Regions from separate parts of the Homo sapiens genome. Here region 1 is linked to region 2. The links come from fine-mapping of genetic effects on gene expression. Tissue or cell type: CD4 T cells. Region 2 holds a variant in brackets; the other region holds the start of a gene. All regions are shown on one strand. Distances are between the middles of the regions.

Region 1 (10,130 bases), 44 kb after region 2:
TGGCTCATCTCATTCCCTGAAACCCTTCCTATAGACCCACTTGCATCTGCAACCATCTCTTCCTTCCTTCTTTTATCCACTGGAAAGTTAATCTCCCCCAAGGGCCCTGGATCCCACTTCCTCCTCTCTTCTCTTGACCCTAGCTCCATCAACTGCTATCTCTCTTTCATGTACCTGCAACGTTTCCCTCCCTTTTTGCTGCTTTTCCTCAGCAATTTTTTTTTTTTTTTTGAGACAGAGTCTCACTCTGTCGCCCAGCTGGGAGTGCAGCGGTGTGATCTCGGCTCACTGCAACCTCTGCATCCCAGGTTCAAGCAATTCTCCTGCCTCGGCCTCCTGAACAGCTGGAACTACAAGCACGCGCCACCACGCCCAGTTACTTTTTGTATTTTTAGTACAGACAGGGTTTCACCATGTTGATTAGGCTGGTCTTGAACTCCTGACCTCAGGTGATCCACTGGCCTTGGCCTCCCAAAGTGCTGGGATTATAGGCGTGAACCACCACACCCACCTTAATGACTTTCTGATGCCCTCAGGAAAAAGGCAAAACTCTTTTCATATCAAGTGCAAGATCCTTCACACTCTGGTTCTTATCTGTGGTCTCATTTCTCCTTTCCTCACACTCTGACCAAACCAGACTGAACAACCTGTAATTCGTCAAACATATCAGGTGAGGCGTGAGTGTTCTATTCGGCTCCAGGTTCTGTGCATGCTGTTCCCTCCTGGCATGGTTCCTGCCACCTCTCCCCCAAATACAGGTAATCTCCTCAGGTCACAGCCTCTTTGACATCTTATTTATTTTTTTTGAGATGGAGTCTCGCTCTGTCGCCCAGGCTGGAGTGCAGTGGTGCGATCTCAGCTCACTGCAAGCTCTGCCTCCTGGGTTGATGCCATTCTCCTGCCTCAGCCTCCTGAGTAGCTGGGACTACAGGCACCCACCACCATGCCTGGCTAATTTTTTTTTTTAATTTTTAGGAGAGACGGGGTTTCACCATGTTAGCCAGGATGGTCTCAATCTCCCGACCTCGTGATCCGCCTGCCTTGGCCTCCCAAAGTGCTGGGATTACAGGCATGAGCCACTGTGACCGGCAAATAATTTTTAAAGCTAATATTTTTATAAGTAGTTACAATGCACCAGATACTGCCTATATATATAACTAATTTAATCCTCACAACCTTATGAGGTAGATACTAGCATTTCTATTCTACACTTGAGGAAACAGGCACAGATAAGTGGAAGTGACTCACCCAAGGTCCTACCAAACTGTTGAGTAGCAGAACCCTGCCAATTTGGCATTAGTGGCCGGCTATTTAATCATGACTCCACGCTACCTTTCAAATAAAAGCAGATGGTAAGGAAAGGACAGCTGTGAGGACTGAACCATTAAGCACATTCCCCTAACAGAGAAAGGGAATTGCAAAGGTGGCAGAACAAACACAGTAACAGATGAGTTTTAAGGTGGAATTAAAAAAAAAACTTTAGGCCGGGCGCCATGTCTCACGCCTGTTATCTCAGCACTTTGGGAGGCCGAGGCGGGTAGATCATTTGAGGTCGGAAGTTGGAGACCAGCCTGGCAAACATGGTGAAACCCCGTCTCTACCAAAGATACAAAAAATTAGCTGGGTGTGGTGGCACGCACCTGTGGTCCCAGGTACTCATGGTGCGGCCACCATTGCATCTTGGGCCTCACTAACCAGTTCCCGTTTGTTGGATTCAATACTCTCTCACCACACAGGCCAATCTTGTGTTTTATTAATTTTTTTAATTTTTTTTTTTTTTTTGTAGAGAGGGGCTCACTATGTTGCCCAGGCTGGTCCTGAACTCCTGAGGTAGGAGGATCGCTTGAGCCTGGGAGACAGAGGTTGCAGTGAGCCGAGATTATGCTACTGCACTCCTGCCTGGGTGACACAGTGAGACTCTGTCTTAAACAAAACAAAACAAAGAAAGGCCAGGCGCAGGGGCTCACACCTGTAATCCTAGCACTTTGGGAGGCCAAGGTGGGTGGATTATTTGAGGTCAGGAGTTTGAGACCAGCCTGATCAGCATGGTGAAACCCCGTCTCTACTAAAAACAGAAAAATTAGCCAGGTGTCGTGGCTTGCACCTGTAGTCCCAGCTACTCAGGAGGCTGAGACAGGAAAATTGCTTCAACCAGGGAGATGGAGGCTGCAGTGGGCAGATTCGCGCCACTGCCTGGGTGACACAGTGAGACTCCATCTCAAAAAAGCCCAGGGTGCTTGGCGCCAAAAAAGGGATCTCTGACCTTGTGTTCATTATGACCTTCAAAAGAGTGAAGTGGTGAGGGCATGAGGGCAGAGGAAAAGAAGGGCTTAAGACAACGAAGGAAAAGAAGGCACCAGAGTCTAGTGCCTTTGCCGCCAAACCTAAACCTATAAGGTTGGCAGCAAAACCAAAGCACAAACTGATAACAAAGGAGGTAAAGCCAGGGGAGAAGAAACTGAAGACGTCAAAGACAGAAATGAAGCACATCATCTGGTTTAAAACAAATGATAGAGTTTTTACAGTTCTGGAAAATGACCGTATAATATTCTCTGCTAAGAAGAATAACTTCTGCTAAACAACCATAAGACTGCAGCTGGCTCTACTCAGATCTGCTTATTCCAACAAGACCAAGGTGCTAGTTCTAACTTCGAGTTGTCCCTCTGTATGGCTGCAGCGTTGCGCACAGTGGACTGCCGGTCACAAGGAAGACTGGATGAGCGTGGGTTCACACAACATTTCCCACACTTGCCTCAGCAAAAGAACCACCTGGGACACTTGTTTAAAAATGACAGATTCCCACGGTCCACCTCGGCAGATTCTGATCCTGCCACTCCAGGGAGCTGTATTTTTCAACAAGTACACCAGGTGATCACGCAAGTTTAAGAAATTAACACAAGTTGGCCGAGCGCAGTGGCTCACGCCTGTAATCCCAGCACTTTGGGAGGCTGAGGCGGGAGAATCACGAGGTCAGGAGTTCGAGACCAGCCTGGCCAACATAGTGAAACCCCGTCTCTACTAAAAACACAAAAATTAGCCGGGCGTGGTGGCGCACACCTGTATTCCCAGCTACTTGGGAGGCTGAGGCAGGAGAATTGCTTGAACCCAGGAGGCAGAGGTTGCAGTGAGCCGAGATCGCGCCACTGCACTCCCGCCTGGGCGACAGAGTGAAACTCTGTCTCGGAAAAAAGAAAAAAAAAGAAAAAAGAAATTAACACAAGTCCCTGCCACTGGAAAAGCTTATCCGTCAGGCTGGCTCCTCCTCCACCACCAGACCCCATCCCGGTACATCACGTTTACATGCATGCGGAAAATGGGCTTGGAGATTCTTGATTCAAATCCGAGGTATCACACATCGGCCCCCAAAGGTCAAACATTAAGAAGGAAGCTTACTGCCCTGTCCCAGATTTTTCTAGGTGACTTCTTCCTCCGGACTCTGCAGCAGTCTTTAGTTCTAAAAGCACAAGCGGACCGCACGTCTCAACGCGGGAAAACAGTTCCATCTGCAGGGATGGAGGACCGGGCTAGACAAGCTGGAGTTGGCTCTGCGCCGCAGGGGTGTGCAAGCCCGAGACGGGGGAGCCCGAGGTCACCCCGGCCGCCCTGGCATCGGGGCTGAAGTGCAGGCTCCTGGAGGAGCGGTGCGCACGCCCAGGGGTAGCCGAGAACACAAGCCAAGGCACGAGCGGACAACCTTACGGGGACGAGTACTGGCGCCCGGACGCGACTTCGCGAGAGGCCAGGCGGAACCCACTGGAAGCGTGAGCTAGCGGGGACCACCCCCGGGCGAAACCAAAGGAGAAAGAGGGGAACCCAGGGGTCCCGGGGCGCTTAGGCCCGCGCGGACGGGGAGGCCAGAGTTGCCCCGAAGCTATCTCCTTACCTCACCGGTCCCCACGGGCTCCGCGCTCAGCTACAGCCCGGCGGGAGCAATGCGGCAGCCACAACAGTTGCCTGGGGTCGCCGCGGGCCGGAAAGCGGGGTTCGGGGATGGGAAGGGGGCGGGGCGAAGCGAGCAAAAAGTTCCGGGGAAGCCGAGACCGCGACCTTCCGCGCTTTACGGCCCCCGGGCAAGGGTACTGCCGGCGCGTGACCTCAGCAGCGCACGAGCGCGCCGTGACGCCTTCGCGGAGCCCCGCCCCTGCCACGTGGGCTTGTTTGGGTCTCGCGAGGCACCGCCCCCGCGGCCTCTTTGCCACCCTCAGAGGCGAGCTGTGGAAGCCTTGACTCTTAGGGCCGTTTTAGAACCGGGGCCTCGGACCGGCGGGGTTTCTGCACGTGGAACCGGAACATCTGAGATGATCGCAGGCCCTGTGGAGTGTGGGGAGCGCGGGAGTTCTTTCTTCCCTCGAGGCCCGTGCCAGGGCTTACTCCAAAGCCAGTGGGTCCCCAGTCCTAAGCCAAGCAGTCCCGGGGGAAAACGCTTCTCATCGCCGTGGGAGCGCGGATCTTGGAAGTGGCTCTGGGCTTTCTTGGGCGAGGCTCTCACAGAGTAGATCGGAAATCCATTCTGCTGGCCCGCCCCACCTCGGAGGACGGACTAACGGACCTGAGTTCCCGGCCCTATCTTACTCTTCTCAGCTTCTCAGCTTGGCTCAGCTCAGAGGAAGAGGAATCACTGAAGTCTCAGAGAAGTCTCCACTCATCCCTTCCTCACTGTCACATCAGCCTTTTCTTTCCTTCTAGAACTCATCACTGACTCAAGGATATAAGTTTGATGACTGTCTTTTCCACTGGTGTGACACGATCTCTGTCGACAGAACCTTAGTCTTATGCATAGCTTTATTCTCAGCACCCAGAACAGTGCCTGGCACCTCTTCCACTGAATATTATATGCATAAGGGTCTCATGCTGCAGCCACCATTGCATCTTGGGCCACACTATCCAGTTCCCGTTTGTTGGATTCAATACTGTCTCACCACACAAACCAATCTTGTGTTTTATTAATTTAAAAAAAATTTTTTTTTTGTAGAGATAGGCTCACTATGTTGCCTAGGCTGGGCCTGAACTCCTGGCCTCAAGTGATCCTTCCATCTCAGCCTCCCAAAGTCCTGGGATTACAGGCGTGAGCCACTGTGCCTGCCCCAATCTTGTGTTTTATTGCTGGCCACCTGTAGCCAGGCACTGTGCAGGATGATGGGATCCAGCAATGTACAAGAAAGAGGCGGTTTCTGCTCTTAGGGAGTGGCAGTCAAGTTCCAGGGACCCCTCTGTCACAAGGCCAGGCCACAGCCTACATAGTTTATACCCCATTTACTGGCCAGTCAAATCACACAAAGACAGCCCAGATGAGGTCTGCCAGACAGTGGACTGAAACTATGCCATAGGCTCCTGTGCTAGATAAATACTTCCATATTTTAGCTAGGATTGAATGCTTGGGGACACCTACCTGTCTAAAAAAAGAGAAAACGGCTGACCAATTTGAGACATTCTCGGGGAAGGCTTTCCTGATGCCCAGATGTGGCGATTTCATGAAAAATATCACAGGTTTTCCTCATGAACCATTTGGTTCAAGCCATTTCCAGGCACATGAATTTGGGAGAAACCTGGTTGTCTGCAGGAGATGGTGGATGAAATCAAGTGAAATACTTAATGTGTTGATTTCATTCTGTTTACGTGCAGTAAATAGCAAACAAATGGTGTAGATCTGTCCCTGATTTCCTTCTCCATCACCATGATCGGCCTCCACTCCAAAATGCTAAGTCAGGCTGGGTGCGGTGGCTCATGCCTGTAATGCCAGCACTTTGGGAGGCCAAGGCAGTTGGATCACGTGAGGTCAGAAGTTCGAGACCAGCCTGATCAATATGGTGAAACCCCATCTCTACTAAAAAATACAAAAATTAGCTGGGCGTGGTGGCACATGCCTGTAATCCCAGCTACTTTGGGAGGCTGGGACAGGAGAATTGCTTAAACCCAGGAGGCGGAGGTTGCAGTGAGCCAAGATTGTGTCACTGCACTCTAGCCTAGGCGACAGAGCGAGACTGTCTCAAAAAAAAAAAAAAAAGGGAAGTAAGTCCTAAGGCCCCTTTCATTGTCAAAGATGGGTCTTGTCCTTAGTAGGTTCTCATAACCACTGATGCACTATTTTTTCTAGGGGATTGAGTGTTTTTATTTTATTATTATTTTTTAGATGGAGGCTCACTCTGTTGCCCAGGCTGGAGTGCAATGGTGTGGTCTCGGTTCACTGCAACCTCTGCCTCCCAGGTTCAGGGGATTCTCCTACCTCAGCCTCCCCAGTAGCTGGGACTGTACAGGCGTGCGCCACCACGCTGGGCTAATTTTTGTATTTTTATTAGAGACAGGGTTTCGCTATGTTGGCCAGGCTGGTCTCAAACTCCTGACCTCGTGATCTGCCCACCTAGGCCTCCCAAAGTGCTGGAATTACAGGCGTGAGCCACCGCGTCCAGCCTATTTTTATTTTTTGAGATTAGCTCTCACCCTGTCACCCAGGCTGGAGCACAGTGGTGCAATCACGGCTCACTGCAGTCTTAACTTCCTGGGCTCTAGCGATTCTCCCACCTCAGCCTCCCGAATAGCTGAGACCTCAGGCGCGTGCCACCGTCCCCAGCTAACTTTTGTATTTTTTGGTAGAGGTGGGGTTTCACTATGTTGCTGAGGCTGGCATTAAACTCCTGACCTCAAGAGATCCACCTGCCTTGGCCTCCCAATGTGCTGGGATTAGAGGCATGAGCCACCATGTCTTGCCCTAAACAGACGTTTTAATTACGCTTGTCAAGTCCTCTTGTGAAATCTTCATCTGCAGTGACTTGGTAAATGTATTTGCTACCACACAGGATAAACAGTGTACAGACAAACATTTGACATACCTATGTTACCACAGTGTAAGAATGAATTTGGATCTGAGGTCGCTAAGATGCAGGCGTTTATCTTACCTCCCTGCAGCACCGGCATGGCTGTGGGGAAGGCCTCCCTCCTCCCTCTGAAGTTCTTGTCCCCATCAGTAGACTGGACATCTGCCTACAACCGACTTCACAGAAAGGACCTGACACCTGGCATGCTTCTCGTGTGCTTGAGAGCCTGTGTTTGTGTGGAAAGCAGGGATGTTCTCATTCACACCATGGGAAGAGAAGAATGTTGCGAGTAGCAATCAGTACTCTTTTTTTTTTTTTTTTTTTTTTTTTTTTTGTGAGACGGAGTCTTGCTTTGTCACCCAGGCTGGAGTACAGTGGCGCGATCTCAGCTCACTGCAAGCTCTGCCTCCCGGGTTCACGCCATTCTCCTGCATCAGCCTCCTGAGCAGCTGGGACTACAGGCACATGCCACCATGCCCAGCTAATTTTTGTATTTTTAGTAGAGACGGGGTTTCACCATGTTGGCCAGGATGGTCTCGATCTCTTGATCCACTGCGCCCAGCCAGGAACTTCTTTTTTTTTTTTTTTTTTGAGACGGAGTCTTACTGTGTCGCCAGGCTAGACTGCTGTGGTGCGATCTCGGCTCACTGCAACCTCCAACTCCCTGGTTCAAGGGATTCTCCTGCCTCTGCCTCCTGAGCAGCTGGGATTACAGGCGTGTGCCACCACACCCAGCTAAATTTTGTATTTTTAATAGAGATGGGGTTTCACTATGTTGGCCAGGATGGTCTCGATCTCCTGACCTTGTGATCCGCTCGCCTCGGCCTCCCAGAGTGTTGGGATTACAGGCGTGAGCCACTACACCCGGCCTGGAACTTCTCTCTCTTTTTTTTTTTTTTGAGACGGAGTCTCGCTCAGTCACCCAGGCTGGAGTGCAGTGGCACCATCTCGGCTCGCTGCAAGCTCCGTCTCCTGGGTTCACGCCATTCTCCTGCCTCAGCCTCCCGAGTAGCTGGGGCTACAGGCGCCCACCACTATGCCCGGCTAATTTTTTTGTATTTTTAGTAGAGATGGGGTTTCACCATGTTGGCCAGGCTGGTCTTGAACTCCTGACCTCAAGTGATCCGCCTGCCTTGGCCTCCCAAAGTGCTGGGATTAGAGGCATAAGCCACCACACCCAGCCTCACTAGTTTTATTATCCACTGACTCGACTTGCTTGAGACGATTTTACTATGGTGGTTATCAAATGGTAACTTTCTAATTCTGTAATTCCTTCTGTGTTTATTAGCTCAAGGTCTATGGGATGCAGTGTTGATAGGGTTCTGTCTACTTCACTTGCCTCTGTTCCCAGGGCCTAGCTCTCCAAGTCTTTCAACTGAAATCCCGTAGTATACCCCAGGTTCCCTCCTTTTGAGAGATCTTGAAAACTGTCTACTCAGCTCATTGCAACCTCTGCCTCCCAGGCTCAAGCGATTCTCCTTCTTCAGCCTCCTGAGCTGGGATTACAGGCACACGCCACCATGCCTGGCTAATTTTTGTATTTTTAGCAGAGATGGGGTTTCTCCATGTTGGCCAGGTTGGTCTTGAACTCCTAACCTCAAGTGATCCACCCACCTTGGCCTCCCAAAGTGCTGGAATTACTGATTTCTTTCTTTCTTTTTTTTTTTTGAGACAGGGTTTCACTCTGCCGCCCAGGCTGGAATGCAGTGACGCAATCTCAGCTCACTGCAGTGACGCGATCTCAGCTCACTGCGGTGAAGCGATTTGAGCTCACTGCAGCCTCTGTCTCCTCAGTTCTAGCGATTCTCGTGCCGCAGCCTCTCGAGTAGCTGGGATTACAGGCACCCGCCACCATTCCTGGGTAATTTTTTTACTCAGCACTGTGACTCTGCAAAATTCCGCTCTGCTTTAGAGAGGTCTAAGCTTAGTGTTTCAGGTTTGCATCTTGTGTATTCAGATTTCACCAGATGGCTTGAGACCTAGCCATCTATTCGAGGCCATTCAAGCCTCCAAATTTTGTCACTCCGGCTGGTGAGACTATAAAAACATAAAAAACCTGGATCCTCAGCCTCTGGCCAGAGTTGGCAAATGCAAGTGGCTGCAGGCTGTCAGCTCTCCTCTCTACAATCCTGACCCTTTAGTTACTGTTGCCTCTGCAACTCACTTAAACCAAAACCTCACCTCTGGCTTTCATTTTCCTTTGTAAATCTCCATCTTAAGGACTTCACAGGCCGGGCGAGGTGGCTCACGCGTGTAATCTCAGCACTTTGGGAGGCCAAGGAGGGAGGATCACCTGAGGTCAATAGTTCAAGACCAGCCTGGCCAACATGGCAAAACCCCGTCTCTACTAAAAATATAAAAATTACCCAGGAATGGTGGCGGGTGCCTGTAATCCCAGCTACTCGAGAGGCTGAGGCAGGAGAATCGCTAGAAGAACCTCAGGAGGTTGCAGTGAGCTGAGATCGCATCACTGCACTCCACCCTGGGCGGCAGAGTGAAACCCTGTCTCAAAAAGAAACCAGTAATTCCAGCATTTTGGGAGGCCAAGGCGGGTGGATCACTTGAGGTTAGGAGTTCAAGACCAACCTGGCCAACATGGAGAAACCCCATCTCTACTAAAAATACAAAAATTAGCCGGGCATGGTGGCATGTGCCTGTAATCCCAGCTCAGGAGGCTGAAGGAGGAGAATCGCTTGAGCCTGGGAGGCAGAGGTTGCAATGAGCTAAGATTGCACCACTGTATTCCAGCCTGGGCGACAGAGTGAGACTGTCTCAAAAAAAAAGAAAAGAAAAAAAGAAAAACATCTGGGAAAGTATTAGACTCAGTCTCTGGTTCTGTCCCCAACTCTCTGGGGCCCCTTGGGTGAGTCTTTTACCTTCTCTGGGCCTCAGATCCACCCGCCTACCTATTACACCCAGTTCTGAGGCTACAGAGTGAACAGAAAAGAAAACCACTGCTGTCCTTACAGAACTGAAGCCTAACTTTTCCATCTATAAAATGGGTATACTACAACCTCCCTGAGAGTAAGTGAGCCAGAGAGCTTGCTCTTTGGGAGGTGGCAGTGGCAGACAGGAAAAGCCCATGGAAACACAATGTCAGAGGTCAGCCCAACCTTTCACCTGGGCCTGTGTGCCCTGCAGTGAAACTTGAACAGATCTTCACTGCTGTCACCTACTGCTACCTGGGGCTGTTGGGTGCAGCTCAGTTCTATGGCCTGATCCTGGTTGTTCTCTGAAGAAATCCCTGCTATTTGGCCCACCCTAAGGGGTCTCCCAGCCAAATGGGTCAAGGAGCAGTCCCTGGCTCCAAGACCCAGG
Region 2 (10,130 bases):
AAACCCAGTAACATGAGAAGAAACTCAGTGGAAACCTTGCTTGGTGGAGACAGTGCACAGTGTTAGTGCCACATTCACAGGGGCAGAAATGCTCGGTCACCCTGTGCACCCAAAGTCACCCAGGATCTCTAGAAAAGATCCCACTTACTGAAGTGCCTCGGATGTCTTCAGGGCCAGATTGTAACTACACAGGAACAGGGAAGGGCTAAGCTGAACTGCAAATTGACAAACACAAACGATGAGTCACAGGACTCTACAGTAGTTACAATGGCATTTTTATATGTCCCAAGTGTTGACTGGAGAGTAAAGTGTTAACTGAGCTGCTAGAACACCCTTCACTGAAAGAGCTTTCTACCCCACGCCCATTGTTCCGAAGAAGGAGAGGCTATGTGGGGCGGATGGGAACCCACACACCGAGATGAACTTTTCTCTTTCTTCCAATCTGCACCCACCATCTGACATTCTGGAGTGTAAGGCACTAGAACCTGGCTTAGAGAATAGTGGGGCTCTAAGCTCCAGTTCTTGGTGTGCAAAGGAAATTCTGACATACATCTTTTGAAAGAGATGCTAAAAAACCCTCCCTATCTCCTGTAATTTCTGTCTTTGACAGACAGGAAAATAAGAAGGCAGAAGATGGTCTGCAAAGGATAAAAACAGGTGCATCTAAGAATGAGAAAAATGGCTCATGAAGAAATGTGTAACTCTCCAAGAGATGCAGACACTCTGCTCAGAGAAGTCAAGAACCATAAACAACTCTTCATGTTTCATGGACAAAGGGAAGGCAAAGGCATACAAAAATACTCAGTTGTCTTGAAAAGTGTACTGGTAGTGATCAGGGCTACAAAGGCGAGCCCTGTACTGACAATGGAGGAGCCTTACAACTCAGCACCTTAAATTGTTGGCCTGAAGTGGTGGCGGGGAGGGAGGCGCTGACGGAGAGACCCATGGCTCACCACTTATTGCGTGTACACAAGGCCTGGGGCAAGCCTCACAAGTCTACCATTTCTTCCACTCAACTGTGCTTCTCCTGAATCCATGTGCCTGAAATGACATATGCAAGGTGAACATTCTTTATACTGTGTTAATACTGCTTATATCAATGTTCGTGAGGGGTGTGTGGGGGATGGGGTGCAGCAGGAAAATTAGAATGGCAGGAGGTTCTTATTTATTATTAAGCACTGTTGACCAAACCTCTATCTTAGATTTTTTTTTTTTTTTTTTTGAGACAAGAGTCTCACTCTGTTACCCAGGCTGGAGTGCAGTGGTGCAATCTCAGCTCACTGCAACCTCTGCCTCCTGGGTTCAAGCAATTCTCCCACCTCACTGGGCCTCCCAAAGTGCTGGGATTACAGGAGTAAGCGACCACGCCCGGCCAACCAAACCTCTATCTTAGATGTTAAAGAAGACCCTTATTGACTACACTGGCCAAGAAGCAACAGAGATATAAAGCTGAATCTTGTAGCTAACCCCTGAAAGCAAGCCAACGCAAATTCCTCCGCCAGGCCAGTCTTCTAGTGCCAATATGGAGACTGTGGGCCACAGAAGATTCCCTTCTATTTCAGGTTCTCAAAAAGTGGTGTAGACTCAGGCAAATGCCAGGAAATGTGTCCATATGCCAGAGGAGACACAGAGCCAGAAATGAAGGCTATGGGTCCTGTCTTCAGTGAAACACTGAACGCTCTCGGAAAGCTCCCATCATTCTTGCATCGCTACTGCCACCAAGACGGTGGCAAGGGAGGAGGCTAACTTTCAAATGCATGCAACGGCAGGTAATATACTGTGGAAGCTGGAGGTTTACTTTTCATGTTTTAGTTACTTTCTTGCAAACAGCAGTCCAGGAAAGCAAGCAAGCAGGTAAAACTCCGGGTGTGCATGAGGAGATGATCCAAGGCCAGTGGGCCTCCCAGTGAGAACCAAACAGGAGTGGCCAGGCTCCACTCCTGGGGCCAGAGTGAAACCGGGGTTTAATCACTGGGCTATGTGGTCTCTGTGTCTCTGGCCTGAATGAGATCTCTTCAATGTCGGGGGACAGGGATCCCTGGAAGAGCGTGAAAAATACAGTGGTCACTGTGCAGTTCTCTCTGCTGGAGCCTGTCCTGCCATCATACAAGGTGCTGTGACAGCAATGCAAGGTGAAAGGAGATCAAATGGCCCAGCTCAGCAGTTAGTGTTTGTCCCTTTTTGCTCTTCAGAGTTCCTGAATGAGAGCTTTTCTGGCTTCAGTACCAATGATCACAGAAGGAACATCTTCCTGATGCAAGCTTAGATGGAAGTCAATGACCCTGGCAGTGCTAAGAACAGAAGTCACACGTGGCCTGACGATGAAGGGGAGGTAATTAAAGACATTTCAAGGGAGGGGAAGGCCCACGGAAAACTGGCAACCCTGGGTCTCCGTTTGAGGCCAATATACTTTGTGTTCCTAGGTTCAGATGGCATACACCGACAAGAGAAGGCAGAGACCATCCTTCGTGGTGAGCACAAAATGCTATGACAGGTAATTGCAGAGAGAAAAAAGCACCCAACTCTGTAAAGCCAAGTCCAGTCACCCATTCACAAGAGTCCAAAATCCTTCAAATCTCTAGGGACAGAAGACAAACGTGCTGCCCAGAATGAGCTGAGACACAAGGCAAACCCTTGGAAATGACACATGGATGAGGAGGCTGTGGTTGTCCCTCCTTATTCCTGCTGGATTTGCAGCCACGGCTCTGGATCTGGGGCATCTACTGGCCTCCCCTGTTCACTCAAGAGGCCACTGCCTCTCAGGAGTCCAGAATGCTCTGATATCTGACACCGGTGGTCAGGAAGTTATGCTGCCCTCTCCTCTTGAACAGCTAAGATGCTTGGACACTAGACAGAGGCAAAGCAGTTATGCCAGAAGCAGGGGAGAGTCATTCACTGTCAGATCTGTCTGTTCAAAGAGCTCACATTAGACCAATCACAGAAAACCACCAGACTCACACAGCTTGTATTTGAATGAACCAGGAGAGACTTCAAGGATCAACTCTAAAGTGCTAGAAGAGAAATCTGTGTTTGGGGCACTGAATAAACAAGTGATGTCCTAGAAGATCAACACCCCATCAGTCTTAGGAGTATGACCCTATTCATGGACAAGGGGTTTCAATGGACAGCCTGAGTGCTCAGCCCCCCATCCTCCTCTCCTAGCAAGACAAGCAGTCTGTTGCTCAGAGGGGGAAACTGATGTCATTTAACAGGAGGTCAGGATTTCTGGTTCTACTTCAACAAACAGTGCATAATTTTGGACACAGCATCAGATTTCCTGACTTCTTACAAAGGACAGCTAATTAAAAACGTGTCAATCTGTAGTAATTAGTTGGAGATTAACAAGGGCAGAAGAGAATCCAAGTCTTAAAACTCTATGTGGGATACATTTCTGATGAAGCTTCTATTTGACTAATATACTGTGATGATGGCACTATTCGATTTTAAACTATGGAGACAGCTTTTATTATTTCGATTTGGATCCTGGTAAGTGGTGATACTGCTATGTAACAGTTAAAGCACAAATGTATTGCCATAGTTAAGGTTGAAGAGTTATGTCTATGTGTAACTAAATTCTTCTGGATTCAATTACAAATACGTTTTCCTTTACAAAGATGGCTTTGGAGGGGTGCAAATGCTACGTGTTTGGAAGAGCAGAGGAGGCCTGCAGCTCTCAGTCACCTGTCTCCATCTTCGGAGGTAAGTCTGCTCCCTGCTGGTAATGCCTGCATCTGCCCAAGGGCCTGTTCCTCCTCTCCCAAGGCCTTCACAGCTGGTGTTCACTGGTTGGCCCTCCAGCCGGCAACACCTCTCCTCCTCTCTGCCTAGAGGCAGCATCTCTCGGCTAGTTAAGTACATACTTGCTCCAAGACAACTAGACCCCCAAACAGAATTCTAATCATATGCTCCTCTAACAAGCCAACCAGAACCTTCCAAAAAGGTTTAGGCACTAAAGTCAGTAATCACTAGGAGTGGTCTAGTTGGGGAAGTGGCAAGAAATGTCTAGAAGGAGCCAGCGTAAGTGGGTAAACAGAGATCCCAAAGAAACACCAGAGAAGGCAGACACCTGAGCATTTTAAGCTGCTCTAATGAAATGGAAGGATGTCCCTTAATACACTTATAGACCTATCAGAGCTAATGCTTCCAAGATACCAACACGCCAAAGGCTAGAGTTTTACTAACCAAAATGTCTTATAGCAGTTTATTTGCACTTAAAAAAAGTCAGATTAGGGCAGTTGATATGCAAGGGGAAAATGAAGCATTGAGGCTGGACAACAGTCCATGATATCTAAGTTTCACCTTGGGAAAACAGAGACACTGCCTGAAAGCGCAGGGCACTTCTGGGCACCCACATTGTCTCCTGCTCCAGAGGATATGGAAGGGTGGGTGGAGGGAAACAAAGAGCCTGGGGGGAAAGGAGGAAAAGCGGTCTCTAGCCTTATGCAACGTACACCCTTTGGACTCAGAACTCTCAGTGGACTAACGTGGGTCACCTCTGTGTAGCTCTGCTCTGTGCTGGAGAGTCAAACCTGGAATTCCGGCAGCTCTCTGGAACTCAGCACAGCCCGCAAGGTTGAAAGGCCCAGGACAACACACCTGATCCCTTCCCCTCCCTATTCTAAAGGGAGAGAAACATGACTTTATGGGCCAACTGTGAAAGGGACAAGTGAGGCTGACCTGACAAAGTCAAACGCACTGGGAGAAGGGGAAGGAGGAACGGCTGAACTTTGGACAGCTGAGAGAAAAGCAGCATTGTTTCCATAGCAGAACACTCAGCATCACTGGTGGGGACTTTCTAAGGTCAGACCCTTTTGACTGGGAAAAGCAACACACAAGGCAATATGGTTTTTCCCTTTCAAACACTGTGGCTTACTTGTTTACTCAACTAAGAAAGAAAAAGCAACCTTATTATAGAGATTAGCAAGAGATGAAGAAAATTATAGGGAGGCTGCCCTGGCCCAAAGGTCTGCTAATGGCTTCTGCAGGGAGGATGAGGATGGTGCTAGGTTAACTGCTTGTCTCCACTACAGACCAGAGAACGTCCATGCGATGCCTCTTATCAGTGAGGTAGATAATCATCCTCTTGCCAGAGGTATCGAGTGCCAGCCCACAGCACAGCAGAACAGGAGAACGAGCTGCCGGGCTGCAGGCACGAGCTGCCCCTCAGGGCTGCATCCGACACACGGCAACCCCACCAGAACTAATAGGCTGCTCCAAGAAAATGGAACCCAAGGGAGAGGGACTCGTGCCCTGAGACCTGCACCACCCCGGCTTGCCCTGCCTTGAGATGCAGAATTTGAAAGCAGCTGTCACCATCACTCATGTCCACAGTGGAGCTTGCTTCTGTCCTGTCAGACATACCTCCTGCCACCACGAG[A/C]AGCTGAGTGAGGGGTGGGAAGGGAAGAAGAGCCCAGAGTGAATATTAGGAGGAGGAGGTGGAAGGGCAAGGAAGGCTGCAGAGCAAAAAAGTTTAAAGTAGGTCAAGTTCAAAATTATATCAAGGAGATAAGAGATGGGAGGCAAAGGCTCCAGAAGAGGAACAGAGGCGGAAGGAAGAGAAGCTCCAAGGTGACGCCCACTCTAGGACAAGATGATGGGGAGGAGGTGAGGCTGCCCTGGTGGCATCACTTCCCATGTAAGTCACTCAGCTCCATGTCATCCTTTCGGCGCTTCTGGGTGAAGAGGGAGGCGACAGGGTAGAGCTTGGCCTTGGCCTGGAAGCGGTATCCCGCGATGTCAATCTCATACTCTCCCCGGTTGATGAAATCTGCTGTCACCACTTGCTCTTCCCCCGTGTCCTCAGAAAAATTGTGCACAAAGCCCAGGCAAACGTGGCGCTCCAGGCTGTAGCTGTAGGCACTGCTGGTGGTCTTGCCAACATACTGCCCATTCCGGTAAATGGGCTCTCCCCACCAAGGCCAAAGGTCTAGGTCTGAATCATGGTCGTCCAGGATGAACATGGTGAGGCGTTTATACACTCCATTCTGCTTCTGCTGCAGGAGGGCGTCGCGACCAATGAAATCCATGCCCTAAGAAAGAAAGGAAACGCCGAGTCATCCAGCGACACTCAGACCCTCGGCACAGAGAGCAGCACCGTGGGAAGGGTCCCCTGGTGTCACTGCAATGGGGCACAGCCGCCTCCTCCCACAACCCTGCCAGCTTTTGGGAAACTGTGCGATTTCTACCATGTGAAAAACTGCATGTGAAATATAAAAGACGCCGCGGTAATTTTTGTAACAACAGAGGTACGCATTTTGTTTCCTATTTTATAAACATAAAGTCACAAGACCAGATAGAACAAAAACGTTTAGGAAGAAAACTCACTCACTTAATAAAATACCTTATCAGTCCAGTACTTTAGAAAAATGTTTTTATATTGGCCAGTCGTGGTGGCTCACGCCTTGAACAGAGATGAGGCAAACCTCATCTCTACTAAAAATACAAAAATAAGCTGGGTGTGGTGGAGTGTGCCTATAGTTCTAGCTACTTGGGAGGCTGAGACAGGAAAATCACTTGAACCTGGGAGGCAGAGGCTGCAGTGAGCCAAGATTCTGGTGGAGTGTGCCTATAATTCTAGGGAGACTGAGACAGGAAAATCGTTTGAACCTGGGTGGCAGAGGCTGCAGTGAGCCAAGATTGCACCACTGCAGTCCAGCCTCGGTTGACACAGCAAAACTCTGTCTCAAAAAAAAAAAAAAAAAGACTTTTTTATATAATCCCAACAAGACCATGCACATCTATATTCAATGCATACACACATATATACACATATGTACAACAAATAAGACTAGAATAAACTATTAACGGTGATTATGGCCAGGCACGGTGGCTCACGCCTGTAATCCCAGCACTTTGGGAGGCTAAGGCGGGGGGATCTCCTGAGGTCAGGAGTTCGAGACCAGCCTGACCAACCTGGAGAAACCCCATCTCTACTAAAAAAAGAAAAAATACAAAAATGCCTTCTCATGCTCAAGTGATTCTCCCACTTCAGCCTCCCAAGTAGCTGGGCCCACAGATGCGCCACCACACCCACCTAATTTTTTGTATTTTGGTAAAGACAAAAAATACAAAATTAGCTGGATGGCTTACAGCTACTCGGGAGACTGAGGCAGGAGAATCGCTTGAAGCCAGGAGGCAGAGATTGCAGTGAGCTGAGATCGCGCCACTGCACTCCAGCCTGGACAACAAGAACGAAACTCCGTCTCAAGAAAGAAAAAAAAAATAGTTACTACCATTAAATAGACAAAATATGGGTGATTTTAATTTCCTTCTTTATATTTTCCAAAATGGGTTATTACCTTTTTTTTTTTTGGAGATGGAGCCTTGCTCTGTCACCCAGGTGGGAGTACAATGGTATGATCTCGGCTCACTGCAACCTCTGCCTCCCAGGTTCAGGCAATTCTCCTGCCTCAGCCTACCGAGTAGCTGGGATTACAGGTGCCTGCCACCATGCCCAGCTAATTTTTATATTTTTAGCAGATACGGGGTTTCACCATGTTGGCCGGGCTGGTCTCGAACTTGTGAACTCAGGTGATCCGCCCAAAACAAAAAAACCAAAAAAATTAGGCCGGGTGTGCTGTCTCACGCCTGTAATCCCAGCACTCTGGGAGGCCGAGGAGGGCGGATCACCTGAGCTCAGGAGTTCGAGACCACCCTGGCCAATGTGGTGAAACTCTGTCTTTACCAAAATACAAAAAAATTAGCTGGGCATGGTTGTGCATCTGTGGTCCCAGCCACTTGGGAGGCTGAAGTGGGAGGATCACTTGAGCATGAGAGGGCATTGCAGTGAGCCAACATCGCGCCACTGCACTCCAACCTGGGTGACAGAATGAGACCCCACCTCAAAATCAAAAACAAAAGAAAAAAACCACAAAAATTAGGCAGCTGACTATAGGACGACTAGTTTGTACAAATATTCGTGGCATGTTAATGCATCACCATAATTAACTCAGAATAGCTTCCCAGAAAGCACTCAGTCTTTTAGACAGCAGAACACTAGAAATAAGTGGGTTTTTTTGTTTGTTTTTCAATTGTAATTCAGAGACAAGGTCTTGCTGTATTGCCCAGGCTGAGCTCAAGTGATCCTCCTGCCTTGGCCTCCCAAAGTGCTAGGATTACAGTTGTGAGCCACCGCACCTGACCAAGTGTCATCTATTTACTATGTTTTCTTTTTTCTGAGACGGAGTCTTGCCCTGTCACACAGGCTGGAGTGCAGTGGTGCGATTTTGGCTCACTGCAACCTCTGCCTGTTAGGTTCAAGTGATTCTCCTGCCTCAGCCTCCCGAGTAGCTGGAACTACAGGTGCTGGCCACCACGCCCAGCTACTTTTTGTAAATTTTTTTTTTTTTGAGACGGAGTCTCGCTCTGTCGCCCAGGCTGGAGTGCAGTGGCGTGATCTCGGCTCACTGCAACCTCTGCCTCCTGGGTTCACGCCATTCTCCTGACTATAGGCGCCCGCAACCACACCCGGCTAATTTTTTGTATTTTTAGTAGAGACGGGGTTTCACTGTGTTAGCTAGGATGATCTCGATCTCCTGAACTTGTGATCCGCCCGCCTTGGCCTCCCAAAGTGTTGGGATTACAGGTGTGAGCCACCGTGCCCGGCCTACTTTTTGTATTTTTAGTAGAGACGGGTTTTGCCATGTTGGCCAGGCTGGTCTCGAACTCCTGACCTCAGGTGATCCACCCGCCTCAGCCTCCCAAAGTGCTGGGATTCAGGCGTGAGCCACCATTATTATGTTTTCATTTGAAGATATTTTATCCTATAAAGTTTTCATTCTCAGGGCACTCTTGTCCTCATTTACCTGATGCTAACATCAAGGCCTCAATCTTTTCCCCCTTTTCCTGTCACATCAGTTCTTCTTCCTAGTCTAGTGCAGATTCACTACTCGGGATGCTGAGTGAAAGTGGAGTCTGGGTAAACACAGTACCTTCTCTAATTTCACCCGAGACTCTCGTCCACATTCCAGGGGCGTGGTGAGGTTATTTATATCCTGACCCCAGAAGGCAAAAAACTTCTCAATTCGGAGACTGCGAAGAGCGTAATACCCAGCATTCCGGATTCCGTATTTCTGGCCAACACTCATCACTTCATTGTATACATGCAGGGCGTACTATAGGAAGAGACAGAAAGTTCATAAGCAGCAGACCTTCAGAATTAAGCATGGAGCATGTCTGGAAGCGCTGATGGCTCACACTATTAACATGGACAAGAGAGGAGGCGTATAAAACTCCCAGGATGTCTCATCCTTGACACGCTCAGGGCACAGCCCAGGAGTGATGAGCTGGGGTCACCCCAGCCTGGACTTAAGCTCCATGACAACAGGATCCATGTCTTTTCACCTCTCTAAAATGTCTTGTGTGGTGATTCTAGCTTACAGCAATTCTTAAATAATAATTTATAGAAGCTCTCTCACCATTTGGTAAATGGCCAATCTCATCATCATTTCTAAAACAGCCCACCAACCCTCCATGGTCTTCATCTGATTCTGGCTTTGTTCTTTTGCTCCAATTTCCCAACCACTGTTACTCCCTCACGTACTGGCCCAAGCTGTGAGGCCCAGCTCTCACACGTTACTCGAGACGTGTGCACACATCGGATGACGGCGGGGGAGCCAGGAAGGCAGGGCTCGCCTGCTCATGTCCCACAGCATTCAGGCTCTCAAGCTGCTCTTTTCTTGGTTTCAGAAACATGTACGTTATCAGATCAGTGAACAGAAGGTTTTCCAAACTGAAAGCAAATATTCAATCCCTGTCTGAACATACGCTGTTAAGTTTAAAGTCCAACAAAAATGAGACTACACTGTTTGCTTTTAAAACTGTAAAATGAAATCCAAAGCAAGACGTAGCAAAGAACCAGCTTCAGTGGTACTGCAGTTCTTTATCCTAGCACAGTATGTTTCTATGAACTGCACCACTGTAGCTGAACAGGCATCTACCAAACAGACCACTATGATCAAGACAACTTTATTTACTTATTTATTTTTGAGACAGAGTTTTGCTCTTTTGCCCAGGCTAGAGTGAAGTGGCGCGATCTCGGCTCACTGCCATCTCCACTCCCGGGTTCAAGTGAATCTCCTGCCTCAGCCTCCCGAGTAGCTGGTACTATAGGTGGCTGCCGCCACACCCAG

What was found. PIP is the estimated chance that this variant, and not a neighbour inherited with it, causes the effect.
Region 1: PDPR starts here. The variant in region 2 is fine-mapped to the expression of PDPR in CD4 T cells (BLUEPRINT, PIP 0.95). The same link has a PIP of 0.9 or more in monocytes and neutrophils.

What each region holds. Positions count from the first base shown.
Region 1 is chr16:70,108,194-70,118,323 of GRCh38, reverse strand. PDPR (pyruvate dehydrogenase phosphatase regulatory subunit) reads right to left here and starts at 3,992. Exons shown (of 19, transcript NM_017990.5): 1 at 3,884-3,992; 2 at 3,394-3,503. RefSeq lists enhancers at 2,516-3,458, 3,979-4,028.
Region 2 is chr16:70,152,374-70,162,503 of GRCh38, reverse strand. PDPR (pyruvate dehydrogenase phosphatase regulatory subunit) reads right to left here. Exons shown (of 19, transcript NM_017990.5): 18 at 8,931-9,113; 19 at 1-6,029. The coding sequence ends at 5,625. It overlaps LOC400541 (a long non-coding RNA gene), which reads left to right. Exons shown (of 3, transcript NR_126007.1): 2 at 3,615-3,699; 3 at 6,000-6,164. Among named protein-coding and RNA genes, the nearest start is that of CLEC18C, 16 kb to the left of the region's middle. The variant A/C (reference allele first, on the strand shown) is at 5,378.